Homo sapiens: one gene and its partners. The protein of the gene in region 3 purifies or fractionates together with the protein of the main gene of each other region. This does not show direct contact. Each region holds a gene or a part of one and is shown on either strand. Other genes may lie near its edges.

Region 1 (3,705 bases), on a different chromosome or scaffold from region 3:
ATTTGTATTCATAAAAAATGTAAATTAAAATAAATATTAAGACTGAACATTTTTTACTTATGATATTTGTAGTAGTTTTTGAGAAAACTAATAATAGAGTTAAATGAATGGGGAACAGGCCTTGTCATACATATCCCTGCTGGTTCTATAGATTTACCCAACCTGGAGATCATTTTGATAGTATGAATCCAAAACTTTAAAAATAAACATATCATATAACCCAAGAGCTTTTCATTTTAGTTTTTTCTAATCAGAGATACATACAGAAATTTGTATATAAGAATGTTCACTTCTGCATATTTATAACAGCAGAAGGTTGGAAACTAAATGTCTGAAACAGAAAAATTTTTAAATAAGTTGTGCTATTACTTTAGAATTGATTATTATGTGAGCATTAAAAATGTGAACACTCTGGAATAACATGGAAGAAATGGAAATAATATTAAATGAATAAAGAAAAGGTTGTAAAATGATATGAATGGCATGATTTTAGTCTTCTAATAGGAAAATAACCTGGATTATACATAAAGACTAGAGCAATAACAATGTCTGGGGATTATTTCTGGTTGGTGAGAATAAGGCTGGTGTTTATTCCCCTGTACTTTCCCCATGCTTTCCAAATTTTCTGTAAGGACTGTGTATTGCCTTTTTAATAATTAAGTCTCATTGTTTGTCAAGTTGGGCCATATATGGTAAAGAAAATTATTTTTCATCTGTATTATTTGATCCCTTTAGGACACAGATATTATTGTATGGGATGTGATCAATGAAAGTGGTCTGTACCGTCTAAAGGGGCACAAGGATGCCATCACACAAGCATTGTTTCTACGAGAAAAGAACCTGCTAGTTACTAGGTAAAGAAATAATGGTTTAATTTCCAGTTATTTTCTAGGAAGAGAGAATTTGCTTTATTCCTTACTCATTTCTCTCATGAGCAGTGTGCTCATGCTTATGCATTAGTTTTCTCTCCTGTTCTCCTGCATTCCTTCTTTCCATTTCTTCTAAGTAGTATCGTAGAGCTATCCAAAGCTATATTATTTTTAAAATCATTTTTCTAATTTGTCATTCTTTTTTCTTGATATCAGTTTTTCTGTGTTTCTTAGCCTTTTGAAACTCATTATAGAATGAGCTTTGTCTACCTTCTAGATCTCTAGAAAGCCAGGAATCAGAATATGGAGCAGAGGGAAGATATGAATACCAGGTGTTAAATTCGGCTTGCCTTTTGAGGAGAGATGTACTGTACTTCATAGGCCTTCTGAACACCTATTAGGATGAACCATTTGAAATTTTTATTTGTGTACATAAAAAATCATCAAATATCAACAATTTTATATTGTTCAACCTAATATAATAATGAATATTCCTAAAGAATGGCCACCTAGGAAAAGCTGGGATACCAAGGTTTGCCAGGCATTAATTAGAGGAACCATAGTAATGACTCAGAAAAAGCTGTGAGCACTAAATGCTTTACCAATGGTGGATTTGTTTCTGTGGGATAGGATACAGGTAAATTAGTGTCTTGTTCAGATAACACAGGTTCTGTAAGAGAATGATTCTATAGTTCTAATAGAAAAAATATATATTACAGCTTAGGGAATATAAAGGCAAAGAAATAACACTGTAAGGTGGGGTTATATGGGACGGACTTTGTAAATCAGGTTTTTGAGCGGTGTTTTTTTCCAGTTTGCTCATGAAGGAGGATTATATTAGATTTATGTAGTGAGGAGGTAGGGAAGAGGTGTTTGAGCAGGAGTAGTAGAGGCCATTGGCTGCGAGAGGTTATATTTAGGGGGTTAAGAACAAATAAATAGGAAATTTTGAGACTGCTGCCAATGAGCCTGACTTTGATTCTACAGGGAACATTGAGCTAGTGCAAATATTAAAAATTAAGGTTATCTGACAGTTGCACATTGGATGGGATGAGAGAACAGCAATGGACAAAGAGACCAAATGAGAAGCTGTTAAAATAATCCAGGTAGTAGGACTTAAGTTCAGGTTAGTGTACAGAAATGGACTAGAGGAGTTAATACTTAGAAACTTCACAGAGGAGGCATTTTCAGGACAAGAGACTAACTGGACAGGAAGACAAGGGAGTGGGAGCGGTCTAAGATGTTTCCATGGTAGACTGTCTGAGGGGAATGCCAGTGCTGTGATGATGGAAATGATAGGAGGAAGGCCTGATGGATCAAATTCTGTATTCTTTGGTACTCTGCATCTAAAGTCATTCTTGTGCTTATAGGTGGAACATTTTATTTTCTGCACAGGAATAACTACAAGGAAAGTTAGGATTCTTTGCTTTTCAAAAGTAAGATCAGAGAGAATCGGAGCTTTAGACATTATTGAAGCATATGTTCCTTTTAAAGCAACAGTGAGTTTTGGATCTCCCTATTCGTTGAATGAGTTTTCCTAAACAGGCTATATATTTTTTTCCTGTTTCTTCTTTTAGTGGGAAAGATACCATGGTGAAATGGTGGGACCTTGATACTCAGCACTGCTTTAAAACAATGGTTGGCCACCGGACTGAGGTAAGTGTAGGGTCATGGGCCCAGGGAAATAATGGGAAGGCAAAAGGGAAAAGGTGGTGGTCTTCTCTTCCCCTTTCATGGCTCTTTGTTTTTAGTGCACACAGTAATTATCATATGCCATCTTGAGGGACAGTGAGGCTGGTATGATGGAAGCAATGCCAGCCATTGGAGCAGATACTGCTGCTCTGACATGTAGTAAAAATTGGCCTTGCGTGGTTTTTAATTCCTGAGTTTCATCATTTCTAAATAATAAGTGTCCACTTTTATGAATGTAGGGAAGTTTAATGATATTATATGTGCAGCACCTAGCTTATTGACAGGTAAGCAGCACGTGGTAGCTGTTAAAATAGTTACTTGAACAGAGATCTATTCAGTTGAGTTCAGGGACTGTTTTTTATATATCTTTGCATCCTCAGTGCTTTATTCATATCAGGCATTCAGGAAGGTAATACCTAGAATTAATGACAAGAAGATTAAATTCTTTGTTGATTTGCAACAATATTATTTTCATTATTTAATTCCCGGATACTTGAAGCTGAAAGTTATGCAATGGACATTAGTGGGGCACCTTTTATTTGCTAGACACTGCTAAAAGCAAAGAAATAGAAGACTTAAAATCATCATTTGAGTGGATTCTAGTTAAGATTTATGCTGAACAGCCATTATCTTAATTTGATTATACGAGGTTAGAGACAAACTGCTAGTATCACAAAAGTAACAATTTCACCGCAGGCCATTTTTTTCTCTGTAAAAGTGAGACTTCTCTTAGTGCATTTTGAAAGGGTTGTCGATATGCCTTTTCTTTGCCTTTAAATTGCTAGACATTTTACTACGGTGTAACAGACTTTTGGAATGTCATATTATGCTACCTGGAATCTCTTGAAAATCGTATTACTCAAATCTTTTTATATTCTATAGGTATGGGGGTTGGTTCTGTTGTCAGAAGAAAAGCGACTCATCACTGGGGCCTCAGACAGTGAACTGAGGGTATGGGACATAGCTTATCTGCAAGAGGTAATTACTTCTTAAAATCATGGGCAATATGTTTAGAAGTTTCATAAGCACCTTGGATTTAGAATCAGATGTAATTATTCAGTACTTCACATCATATTAGAAGGAATTCTATCACACCAATAACCTGCAACACTTAAAAAAGCTTTTCTTCCTTATATGCTCATTA
Region 2 (3,705 bases), on a different chromosome or scaffold from region 3:
GCTGTTCTGCTGAGCTCCCAACTGGTCTTAAACGCCTGTTGGATATTTTCCACAGGCTTTCCTGAGTTTGTGTTAAAACTCAGCAAGTCCAAACCAGCTCTTCTTAACCTTTCTGCGTTGATGGCGTGTCCATTCTTAGAATCTCTGTTGTTGTTTTTTTCTTTCCTTCTCAACATTTTATTTTTATTTTTTTGGAGACAGGATCTCACTGTGTTCCTCAGGCTGGAGTGCAGTGGCACAGTCATAGCTTACTGTAACCTCAAACTCAGTCTCTCTAGTAGCTAGGACTACAGGCATGTGCCACCATGTCCAGCTAATTTTTGTATTTTCATAGAGACAGGGTCTCGCTGTGTTGCCTAGGCGGGTCTCAAACTCCTGGCCTCAAGTGATCCTCCTGCCTCAGCTTCCCAAAGTGCTGAGATTATAGGCATGGAACCACTGCACCAGACCCCTTCCCAAATTTTGAGGCACAACGTTTTGTCTCAAGTAAGCAGCACAGCCAGCCTATATCACCTTGAGCCTTTTTCAGCATTATAATCTACTTCCCTAATGCTTATTAGATTAAAATTTAAATTGATGTTTTTGATAGTCAAAAGTTGTTGAAATTAGCAGTTTCAACCTAATGCAGTGTAAACTTTTTGTACTTTATTATTTCAATATATGTGTTCGTTTTGTTTCCAACACCTAGCATGCTTTCCTACCACCTCTAGGGATTCAACTCTATCTTTCCTACCTCATAACTTTACCTAGTTTATAAAGCATCTTTTGATTCAGTTAAACACTATCTCAACTTCCTTTGAACCCTTAGAAACTTTGGGGGCATCCCTGTAGAGTACTTAAATTAGCATTTTATTCTAGTTTCTGTTAGTTGGTTATTTATATCCTGCAGTAAGTTGAAAGAGTCATACAGGCTTAGACTACTTTTGTATTTCTGTAATCCAAACTAGCTGTTTAACTTTATTCTGTGATATTTTGTCTGTTTGTAGTAGTTGAGGATAGTAGCTTGTAAAAGTCCATGATGCCTTAGTATGTGTAGGGCATATGGTTTTTTTCCCATAATACTTGTTATTGAATCAAAGACTGAAACAACTATCCACTAATATCTTATATTGTCAGATATACCATTACCATTTTTCACTCTTTATCATTTTTAGATTTACGTAATTTAGATTATGTTTAGAATGTTAAAAAAATCAAAGAGTCTATAATCACTGTAGTTATTAGTATCTTGCTCTATTACATTTGTCGATCTTTACCTTAAAAGTTTTAGACTTGCTACTGAAAGCCATTAAATTCAGACTTTCATAATTAGGAACAGAAGTAGGACTTTTCATTGTCTGGTCACGCAGACTTTCTGAGTTTGCTATGACTGAGGGTCTTTGGTTATGGAGGTTAGTGAAATGAGGTTAAAGTTTCTTCTTCCTGTCTTAATGGATTTTGAACATGTTTAGGTACTTGGTAAATATTTGATGATTGAGACTTCTCAGGCTGTGTTTTCCAAGAGAGTATTAATTATCCCTTTTCCTCAAAGAGGTAAATGAAAAGAAAACTGCTGAGGAAGAAGAGCTTGCTGAAGAAAAAAAGAAAGCCCTGAATGTTGTACAAAGTGTTTTGCAAATCAACTTAAGCAATTCTACAAACAGAGGATCAGTAGCTGCTAAGAAATTTAAGTATGTTTTATGTTCCATCCCATTCTACCATATCATCCTTTGCCATAAATGTCTTCTTGAACTCAATTTAAAACTAGGTCTCTTTTAATGGCCTGGGGAGGCAGCTGGCAATATGTATCAGACCCTTAAAAATATACTTGCCTTTGACCCAGTGATTCACTTCAAGGAACTAATCTTAAATTATTTCTGTATTTATACACTTAGATGTCATAGCAGCATCGCTTTCATTAGTGAAACAAATGGGAAACAGTTTAAATAGTAACTGTAAAAGTATTTATATAAACGTAACTGTTATGGAAATTTTCAGGCATGAAATTTAGAGAGACTAATGAAAGCCCTGTATACCATCATTACCTGTACACCAGGTAATGAAAGCCCTGTACACCATCACCTAGCTTTTACAGTCACCAACATGTGACCAGTGTTCTCTTCTATACCTTTATCCAACCCCTACTTTACACAATGAAATGTTTTATGCAAATCCCAGATAGTATATCATTTTATCTGTATGTATTTTAGTATGTTTAAAATCATTTTAAAAGCTAAAAAAATCCAGGAAATCTCAAAAGTAGGTAGTTTAAAATATTTTTTCGGCTGGGCATGGTGGCTCACACCTGTGATCCTAGCACTTTGGGAGGCTAAGGTGGGCGGATCACCTGAGATCAGGAGTTGGAGAGCAGCCTGGCCAACATGGTGAAACCCCGTCTCTACTAAAAATATAAAAATTAGCCGGGCATGGTGGCACATGCCTGTAATCCCAGCTACTTGGGAGGCTGAGGCAGGAGAATCGCTTGAACTTGGGAGGCGGAGGTTGCAGTGAGCCAAGATCACGCCATTGCACTCCAGCCTGGGCAACACAGCGAGACTCTGTCTCCAAGAAAAATCTATGTATATGTTATTTCTAGTAAGATCCTAGTTATCTTATCTGATGTTATATGGCTTCTTCTTGCTGCAAAATTAGAATCTTCCTAGTGCTGAATTATAATTTGCTACTTACTTTTTGTATTAGTGTTCTGTTTTTATCTCTTCCAACCTCCCTTCCTTTTTTTACATAGGGACATCATACATTATGATCCAACGAAGCAAGACCATGCCACTTACGAAAGAAAAAGAGATGATAAGCCAAAAGAAAGGTAAGTAGAGCTACTTCTTTTAGCAATAGGATCATGTAAATTAATCTCATTTCAGACAATTAAAAATGTAGGTAGGAACCAATATCCTACTCATTGGTCCCACTGTATTAAGATTGGTGGGGTAGGGGTAGTGCAGGTAGAGTTAGAAAGGAATTATTGATGTGGTGGAGGAGGTCTTACCTTTTAACAGAGGAATCTATAAATGATATGTACTCCTATCATTTATACCTTTTATTTGTATAAATGATGCCTTTTATTTGTACTAGTTTCTTGTGTCTTCTGTAGCTACCACAAACTTAGTTACTTAAAATCACAAAAATTATTTCTTTACAGTTCTGGAACCTAGAAGTCCCAAATTAAGATAGTGAACAGGTTATGTTCCTTCTAGAGGTTCAGGGAAACAAAGCTGTTTTATGCCTCTCCTAGTTTCTAGTGACTGCCACCAATCCTTTGGTGTTCCTTGGCTTGAGACTACATTACTCCCATTTCTGCCTCTATCTTCACATGGCCTCTTCTTTTCTGTCTCTCCTCTTTGTGCCTCTTATAAGGACACTTGTGATAGCATTCAGGGCCCACTTGGATAATCCTGGATGGGCTCCTCATCCTAGGACCCTTAACTTAATATCTCTGCAAGACCCCTTATCTAAATAATGTTAACATTCACAGGTTTCAGGAATTAGGACATGGACATAGCTTTTGGGGGGCAACCATTCAACCATCTAGTGTGGTAGGAGCTTCTGTTTCCTATAGATGTGCAGTCAGTTGGATAAACATGGCAAATATATGGAGCAACCAGTAGCAGCTTGGTTTAAATCCTTCATTTTCCAACTGCTAATAGCCACGAAAATCACAAAAGGCAGTGTGGTATCCTGAATTGAATCTTGAAACAACAGGACAATTTG
Region 3 (3,751 bases):
TCCACAGGGACCTTTTTTCCTGATTTACCTGGTAAGAAAGAAGGGAGTTTCTAGAATTAAAGCTGCCTATGCTGCTCTGCAAGTGGGGTTCATCCTCATTGCAAATTCTTACTTGAGGGAAAAAGACAGAATTGGAAAACTCACCCCATTTGGGGCACTTCTCCCAACTTTGACTCCCCTGCATAATTTACTTGTTTTTGTTTGTTTTACAGAGTCCAGTGAGCAGGAGGGGTGGGCCTTAGTGGGCTTAGCTGCCCCTCCAGAGCCAGGACTTCTGTGTATTAAATTTGTGTTATTGGACCTCATGTGTGGAGAGCCGAAACTCATTCTTCCCTATTTGTAACATACTGACATAACCAGTCTCTGTTATGTTTACTCATCCCCATTTCCATCCCCTCCCTCCTAGAGGAAACTGTATAAACAAGTGTGATGTTTGCACTTAAATATTTATGACTCCTTTAAAAAATAAGCTTTAAAATAAGCTGCTTTATGTGTGGATTTGTTTTTAGCTTGCTGAACTGACATTGTGCTAGAGATACTGTTTTGTTTCTTTTTTCATTCAACAATATACTTTTTAGTTATGGTCGTGTCTCTATGTGTAGAATTAGTTTATTGCTTCTAACAGCAGCACAGTATTCCATAGTAGGCATCTATCACATTTTGCAAGGATGGTCACTGTGTTACTTCCAACTCCCTGATGTCATAAGCAAACCTCTCTATGTGTAATTCTTATTAGCTCTACATCTAAAGTGTTACCTTGAATCTGCCAATTCAAGTTAACTTTTTTCCTTTTGTTTACTCTTTCTCCCATGGGCTGTCTCCATAGAGCAGCCAGAAGGATCTTTCTGAACCATAAATCTAAAGTAGGCCTCACAGGTATTTAGCTGGAAAAGGGAGGTTCTAGGAGTCCATTGACCACTCTTGGAGAACTGCTGCTCTGCTGCATCTTGAGCCACCTAGAAGAATGTCTGATGCTTTGTAGTTACAGAGTAATGTTTTTTAGCTGTCATACTGACTGGTCTTAGATTTTGGAATCTGGATTCAGCTGTATACCAGAAATCTCTGGCCAGGTTAATTCATGCAAGATAGCATCCATCCTTTAGCTGTGGAAGCTAAGTATCATGTTGCCTAAATAAGATAGGGCATCAGGTTTTAGGGAGAATGCTGAGGCAGAAGGAAGATGAGTCAGATTAGGGCCCACAGACTATTCCTTTCCCTTAGAGATACCCTTTAGTTGCCATCCCTCTGTCAGAGAAAGAGAGAGGCTGGGACATACCAGGTTACAAATCCAGGGAGTCTTCTGAAGGGTCATAGAACACCTTTATTGCTTCACCTACTTTCTTTTATTAGATGAATCTAGGAAGGAATGTCTACTTGGGCTGCAAAGTGATCATTTATGTGTACTGCTTACTCTTATTACAATGAAGTGTGATAATAATTGTACATGTTGTGTTAGATCAACTATTGTTATTGTTAGGTGATTACAACTTACATTCTGTTTTTATAGCAGGCTTCTTAGTTTTCTGCAGAGGTAACCAACTTGGTTATAATGTAAAAGAATGTATAGAAATTTTGCTCCAGACCTTCCTTTGTGGTATATATTTTTATGTTGTATTAGTAGCAGGACCCAGTGCTCCATAAAGGATAATAGTTTCCAGTACACTATCCCTCATGATGACTCCTTAAGTGGTTCATCGTCTGCATCTTCGTGTGAACCAGTGAGTGATTTTCCAGCATCTTTCCGAAAATCTACCTACTGGATGAAGATGAGAAGAATCAAGCCAGCTGCTACTTCTCATGTCGAAGGTATCAATATCAGTGTCTTATTCTGAAGACGGGCCACTTCCTAAAGTTATAGTTTGAGATTGTTATAAATACCTCTTAAAAGTATTAAATGGCGGCTGAGCGTGGTGGCTCACGCCTGTAATCCCAGCACTTTGGGAGGTCGAGGCGGGCGGATCACAAGGTCAGGAGATCGAGACCATCCTGGCTAACATGGTGAAACCCCGTCTCTACTAAAAATACAAAAAATTAGCGGGGCCTGGTGGTGGGCGCCTGTAGTCCCAGCTACTCAGGAGGCTGAGGCAGGAGAATGGCATGAACCTGGGAGGCAGAGGTTGCACTGAGCAGAGATCGCACCATTGCACTGTAGCCTGGGCGAAAGAGCGAGACTCCGTCTCAAAAAAAAAAAAAAAAGAGTATGAAATGCCACATATTTGTTTCTCATTAGTGATTTAAAAAAATTTAAGGTGTTAGGCAATTGCATCCTGTCCCATTAGCTTCATGAACTGCTATGTGATAGAGTGAAATTCTGCTAATCTTACTCCTCTAGATTATATTTAGCATTTGATTTTCCTCTTTGTAGTATTTGAATTCCCCTTTTCTTCTTCTTTTTTTTTTGAGACGGAGTTTCACTCTTCTTGCCCAGACTAGAGTGCAATGACTCGAGCTCAGGCTCACCGCACCCTCCTTCTCCTGGGTTCAAGCGATTCTCCTGCCTCAGCTTGTAATGCCAGCTGAGTAGCTGGGATTACAGGCATGTGCCACCACACCTGGCTAATTTTGTATTTTTAGCAGAGACGGGGTTTCTCCATGTTGGTCAGGCTGGTCTTGAACTCCTGACCTCAGGTAATCCGCCCACTTTGGCCAAAGTCTGTAATCTCAAAGTGCTGGGATTACAGATGTGAGTCACCATGGCTGGCCCCCCTTTTCTTCTAGTGTGATCCTCTGTTGATGATTTAGGGGCTGGTGTAAGGATTATTCAGGGGAGAATATTCTGGATCGTCACAATCTCAAGGGTCCTTGGTGGCTAGCCCTCTATCTTGAGCAATTCTTATCCTCTTGTTAGCCTCAAGTCAAGATTAAGCAAAACACATTGCTTGAATGCCCTTATTATTCATAAGGAACAATGGATGATTTGGAATAGATAACAATATAAAAAGAAAGGGAGAGTGGGTCAGTTAATGAGAAGTTACACCAACTTCTCTAAAAATGTCACAGACATTTCTCTGAGGCCTGTGTTCACTGATGATCTTTCCTTTTGATGGTCTTGTGAATGATGTTTTGAAGACAGGCCTAGATGTTCATTTACAAAGTGTGCTGAGTTTTTGTTTTGTTTTTGTATGGTACTTCAGGGTCAGGTGGAGTATCAGCCAAGGGGAAAAGGAAACCCAGGCAGGAAGAAGATGAAGACTATCGAGAATTTCCTCAGAAGAAGCATAAGCTTTATGGTAAGGCAGTAACTTTGCTACTTCTTTTTCCTTGGGTGACTGAGCTTTATTCTTTGAGGGTAAAGGAAAGAGAAGCCTTAGTTTGAGCCCTTCAGTGACCTCTGAGCCCTTTGAATTGTTTGGGAGGGAATGGCCTCCATCCTGCCTCATTATACCCTTTCATTCTGTCCTGACTTAGGCAGTCAGTCGGTTGAGGGACTGGGAAATAGGGTGTTGAAGAGGAGGAGAGGGAAGAGATTTTGGTATTAGCAAGGGTGACATGCTGGGCTTCAAGTTTCTGTCTTATGTCAGGGAGGAAGCAACGGCCTAAAACTCAGCCCAATCCCAAATCCCAGGCCCGTCGTATTCGGAAGGAACCACCAGTTTATGCAGCAGGTATGTTTTCTTTTGGAAGTTTTGAGGGATGTAGTTCTCACACTCTGATTTGTTGTTGGTGTTGTCTGTGAAGGAATGAGGTACTAAAGCATTTCTTTAAGGAGGCAGTTACTAAGGGCTCTAGTTTGGAGTCAGACAGACCTTTG
Region 4 (3,705 bases), on a different chromosome or scaffold from region 3:
TGGAATAACTGATATGAAAAAGAGGTTTGTAAATTATATTCTATTATTTAGTGGAAAGTTATGATGTTACTATCATGTTGACTAAAAGGCAAAAATGCTGTATTTGGTAGATGATAATATTGTTGTATTAATTAACTGTGGCCACAATAGTGCAATCACAAAACTTGAGTGACATATGATAATGAACACTAATTTTTTGTTTTTGAGACTAGGGTCAGCTTGTTGGCTTGACGATCTGAGCCAGGTTTGGTTGATCTCACTTGGGTTTGCTTATGTGTCTGAGCAGATGGACTGTAGTTGGCTGGTCGGGGATGGCTATGTTCCCCACATGTGGGGTGGTTGTCTATCAGTGGGAGCATCGGTGCTCTCCCACATGTTCTGGCATCCTCCACACTAACACTTGTGCCACATTCTTTTGCCCAAAGCAAGTCAAAAAATGTGGAGAAGTCACTTCCATCTCTTCATGGTAGAAGTTGCAGATTCACATTGAAAAGGAGGGATGGAGATGTGGAAACATTTTTAGAGTTAGCATAATGATTGAAGCCAATTTTTTTTTTCTTTTTGAGATGGAGTCTCTCTCTGTCGCCAGGCTGGAGTGCAGTGGCACAGTCTCGGCTCACTGCAACCTCCGCCTCCTGGGTTCAAGTGATTCTCCTGCCTCAGCCTCCCAAGTAGCTGGGATTACAGGTGCCTGTCACCACACCCAGCTAATTTTTGTATTTTTTGTAAAGACGAGGTTTTACCATGTTGGCCAGGATGGTCTTGATCTCTTGACCTCATGATCCACCCGCCCCAGCCTCCCAAAGTGCTGGGATTACATGTGTGAGCCACCACGCCCAGCCAAAGCCAAATACTTTTAATCCATCTATTGGGAATGAGAATGTGGAAGGACATCAAAAGACCTATAACTGGGCTGGGCGTGGTGACTCATGCTTGTAATCCCAGCACTTTGAGAGACTGAGGTGGAAGGGTTGCTTGAGACCAGTAGTCTGAGAGCAGCCTGGGCAACATAGCAAGACCCCCATCTCTACAAAAATTAGTCTTTAAAATAATTAGCCAGCCTATTGGTATGTGCCTGTGTTCCCAGCTACTTGAGAGGCTGAGGTGGGAGCATCACTTGAGCCCAGAAGTTTGAGGGTGCAGTCAGCTGTGGTTGCATCACTACACTCTAGCCAGGGTGGCAGAGCAAGACCTTATCTTAGGGAAAAAAAAATGCATAACTGAATTTATTTTCTTTTTCCTTTGTAGACAACAAGGGAGGTGTCACAGTTTTCCATTTAGATCAACAACTTCAAGTTCTTACCATGGAAAATTCCGAGAAGACTGAAGTGGTTCTCCTTGCTTGTGGTTCATTCAATCCCATCACCAACATGCACCTCAGGTTGTTTGAGCTGGCCAAGGACTACATGAATGGAACAGGTAGGAGCAGTAACCAAAAGTGGCTTAAGACTAGAGAACCAGCCGGGTGCAGTGGCTCACACCTGCAATCCCAGCATTTTGGGAGGCTGAGACGGGCAGATCACAAGGTCAAGAGATCGAGACCATCCTAGCCAACATGGTAAAACCCTGTCTCTACTAAAAAATACGAAAATTCACTGTGCCTGTAGTCCTAGCTACTCGGGAGGCTGAGGCAGTAGAATCGCTTGAACCCGGGAGGCGGAGGTTGCAGTGAGCTGAGATTGCTGCACTGCACTCCAGCCTGGAGACAGAGCAAGACACCATCTCAAAAAAAAAAAAAAATACTAGAGAACCGGCATGACTGGGTCTGTTTCAGAATACACATTTCATTGACTGGGCACAAACATGCTGTCCTGCTCCCTTGTACAGTGAATTCTTAGCCAAAAAAGAGGGTGAAGTATGAGGGAAGAATTGAGCATCTGGCTATGGCCTGTAGAATAGAAAATACAGCCAGGTACAGTGGCTCACACCTGTAATCCCAGTGCTTTGGGAGGCCGAGGTGGGAGGATCACTTGAGGCCAGGAGTTTGAGACCAACCTGGGAAACAGAGAGAGACCTCATCTCTACAAAAAAAATTGTAAACATTAGCCAGGTATGGTGGCATGTGCCTGTGGTCCCAGCTACTCAGGAGACTGAAGTAGGAGGATTGCTTGAGCCCGGGAGGTCTAGGCTACCGTGAGCCATGATTGCACCTTTGCCCACCAGCCTGGACATCAGAGCAAGACCCTGACCACCCCTCCCCAAAAAAAGGAATTTGATTCTGTCATGCCTGTGCTTAATCTTCTTTAGGAGTTTCCCATTACTTAAGGCAAAAAGCGAAAGCTTGTACTTTAGCATACATAAAACCTCTAGGATCAGGCACAGCTTTTTAAAAGTTTTCTTTTTTCTTTCTTTCTTTCTTTTTTTTGAGATGGACTTCACTCTTGTTGCCCAGGCTGGAGTGCAGTGGCGCGATCTCGGCTCACTGCAACCTCCACCTCCTGGGTTCAAGCAATTCTCCTGCCTCACCCTCCTGAGTAGCTGGGATTACAGGAATGTGCCACCACGCCCGGCTAATTTTTTATATTTTTAGTAGCGACGGGGTTTCTCCATGTTGGTCAGGCTGGTCTCAAACTCCCAACCTCAGGCTTCCCAAAGTGCTGGGATCACAGGCATGAGCTACCATACCCAGCTAAAAGTTTTCATAAACAATGCATGAGGCTGGGCGTGGTGGCTTACTCCTGGAATCCCAGCACTTTGGGAGGCCAAGGCAGGCAGATCACAAGGTCAGGAGATTGAGACCATCCTGGCTAACACGGTGAAACCCCATCTCTACTAAAAATACAAAAAAATTAGCCGGGCATGGTGGCGGGTGCCTGTAGTCCCAGCTACTTGGGAGGCTGAGGCAGGAGGATGGCGTGAACCTGGGAGGCGGAGCTTGCAGTGAGCCAAGATGTCGCCACTGCACTCCAGCCTGGGTGACAGAGCGAGACTCCATCTCAAAAAAAAAAAAAAAAAAAAAAAAATGCATGAATAGGCTGGGCGTGGTGGCACATACCTGTAATCCCAGCACTTCGAGAGGCAGAAGGGGCAGATTACCTGAGGTCAGGAGTTTGAGATCAGCCTGGCCAATGTGGCGAAACCTTGACTCTACAGAGTCTCGCTCTGTCGCCCAGGCTGGAGTGCAGTGGCACAGTCTTGGCTCACTGCAACCTCCACCTCCTGGATTCAAGCGATTCTTTTGCCTCAGCCTCCCCTGTAACTGGGATTACAGGCACACAGCACCATGCCCGGCCCATTTTTGTATTTTTAGTAGAAATGGGGTTTCACCATGTTGACCAGGCTGCTCTTGAACTCCTGTTCTCAAGTGATCCTCCCACGTCGGCCTCCCAAAGTGCTGGAATTACAGGCATGAGCCACCATAACATAGCATAACCATAACAGTTTCATGTGTATCCTTCCACTCTTCTTTGTATGAATTTATATGCAAACATTTGTGTGTATACACAGATTTTTTTTTTTTTTTGTGGAAATGGTTCTCACTCTGTCACCCTGGCTGGGCAGGCTGGAGTACAGTGGCATGATCACAGCTCACTGCAGCCTTTACCTCCCGGACTCAAGTGAGCTGCCTGCCTCAGGCTCCTGAGTAGCTGTGACTACAGGCATGCCACCACATCTGGCTAATTTTTTTTTTTTTTTGGAGACAGAGTCTTGCTCTGTCGCTCAGGCTGGAGTGCAGTGGCATGATCTCAGCTCACTGCAAACTCC

What was found. Proteins that work in one complex are often made in the same cells at the same time.
Region 1: the proteins of ZNF512 (region 3) and WDR3 purify together in Homo sapiens (affinity purification with mass spectrometry; 2 studies listed by BioGRID and IntAct, with this or other methods). This does not show direct contact.
Region 2: the proteins of ZNF512 (region 3) and NOL8 purify together in Homo sapiens (affinity purification with mass spectrometry; 2 studies listed by BioGRID and IntAct, with this or other methods). This does not show direct contact.
Region 4: the proteins of ZNF512 (region 3) and NMNAT1 purify together in Homo sapiens (affinity purification with mass spectrometry; 2 studies listed by BioGRID and IntAct, with this or other methods). This does not show direct contact.

The regions. Positions count from the first base shown.
Region 1 is NC_000001.11:117,936,034-117,939,738, forward strand, and holds part of WDR3 (WD repeat-containing protein 3), read left to right. Parts: intron 1-735; coding exon 736-854; intron 855-2,446; coding exon 2,447-2,525; intron 2,526-3,443; coding exon 3,444-3,539; intron 3,540-3,705. UniProt on the Homo sapiens protein: Part of the small subunit (SSU) processome, first precursor of the small eukaryotic ribosomal subunit.
Region 2 is NC_000009.12:92,304,851-92,308,555, reverse strand, and holds part of NOL8 (nucleolar protein 8), read left to right. Parts: intron 1-1,531; coding exon 1,532-1,670; intron 1,671-2,725; coding exon 2,726-2,803; coding exon of another isoform or gene 2,804-2,807; exon of another isoform or gene 2,808-2,808; intron 2,809-3,705. UniProt on the Homo sapiens protein: Plays an essential role in the survival of diffuse-type gastric cancer cells. Acts as a nucleolar anchoring protein for DDX47. May be involved in regulation of gene expression at the post-transcriptional level or in ribosome biogenesis in cancer cells.
Region 3 is NC_000002.12:27,596,449-27,600,199, forward strand, and holds part of ZNF512 (zinc finger protein 512), read left to right. Parts: intron 1-1,618; coding exon 1,619-1,806; intron 1,807-3,134; coding exon 3,135-3,230; intron 3,231-3,521; coding exon 3,522-3,605; intron 3,606-3,751. UniProt on the Homo sapiens protein: May be involved in transcriptional regulation.
Region 4 is NC_000001.11:9,970,770-9,974,474, forward strand, and holds part of NMNAT1 (nicotinamide/nicotinic acid mononucleotide adenylyltransferase 1), read left to right. Parts: intron 1-1,248; 5' UTR 1,249-1,304; coding exon 1,305-1,419; intron 1,420-3,705.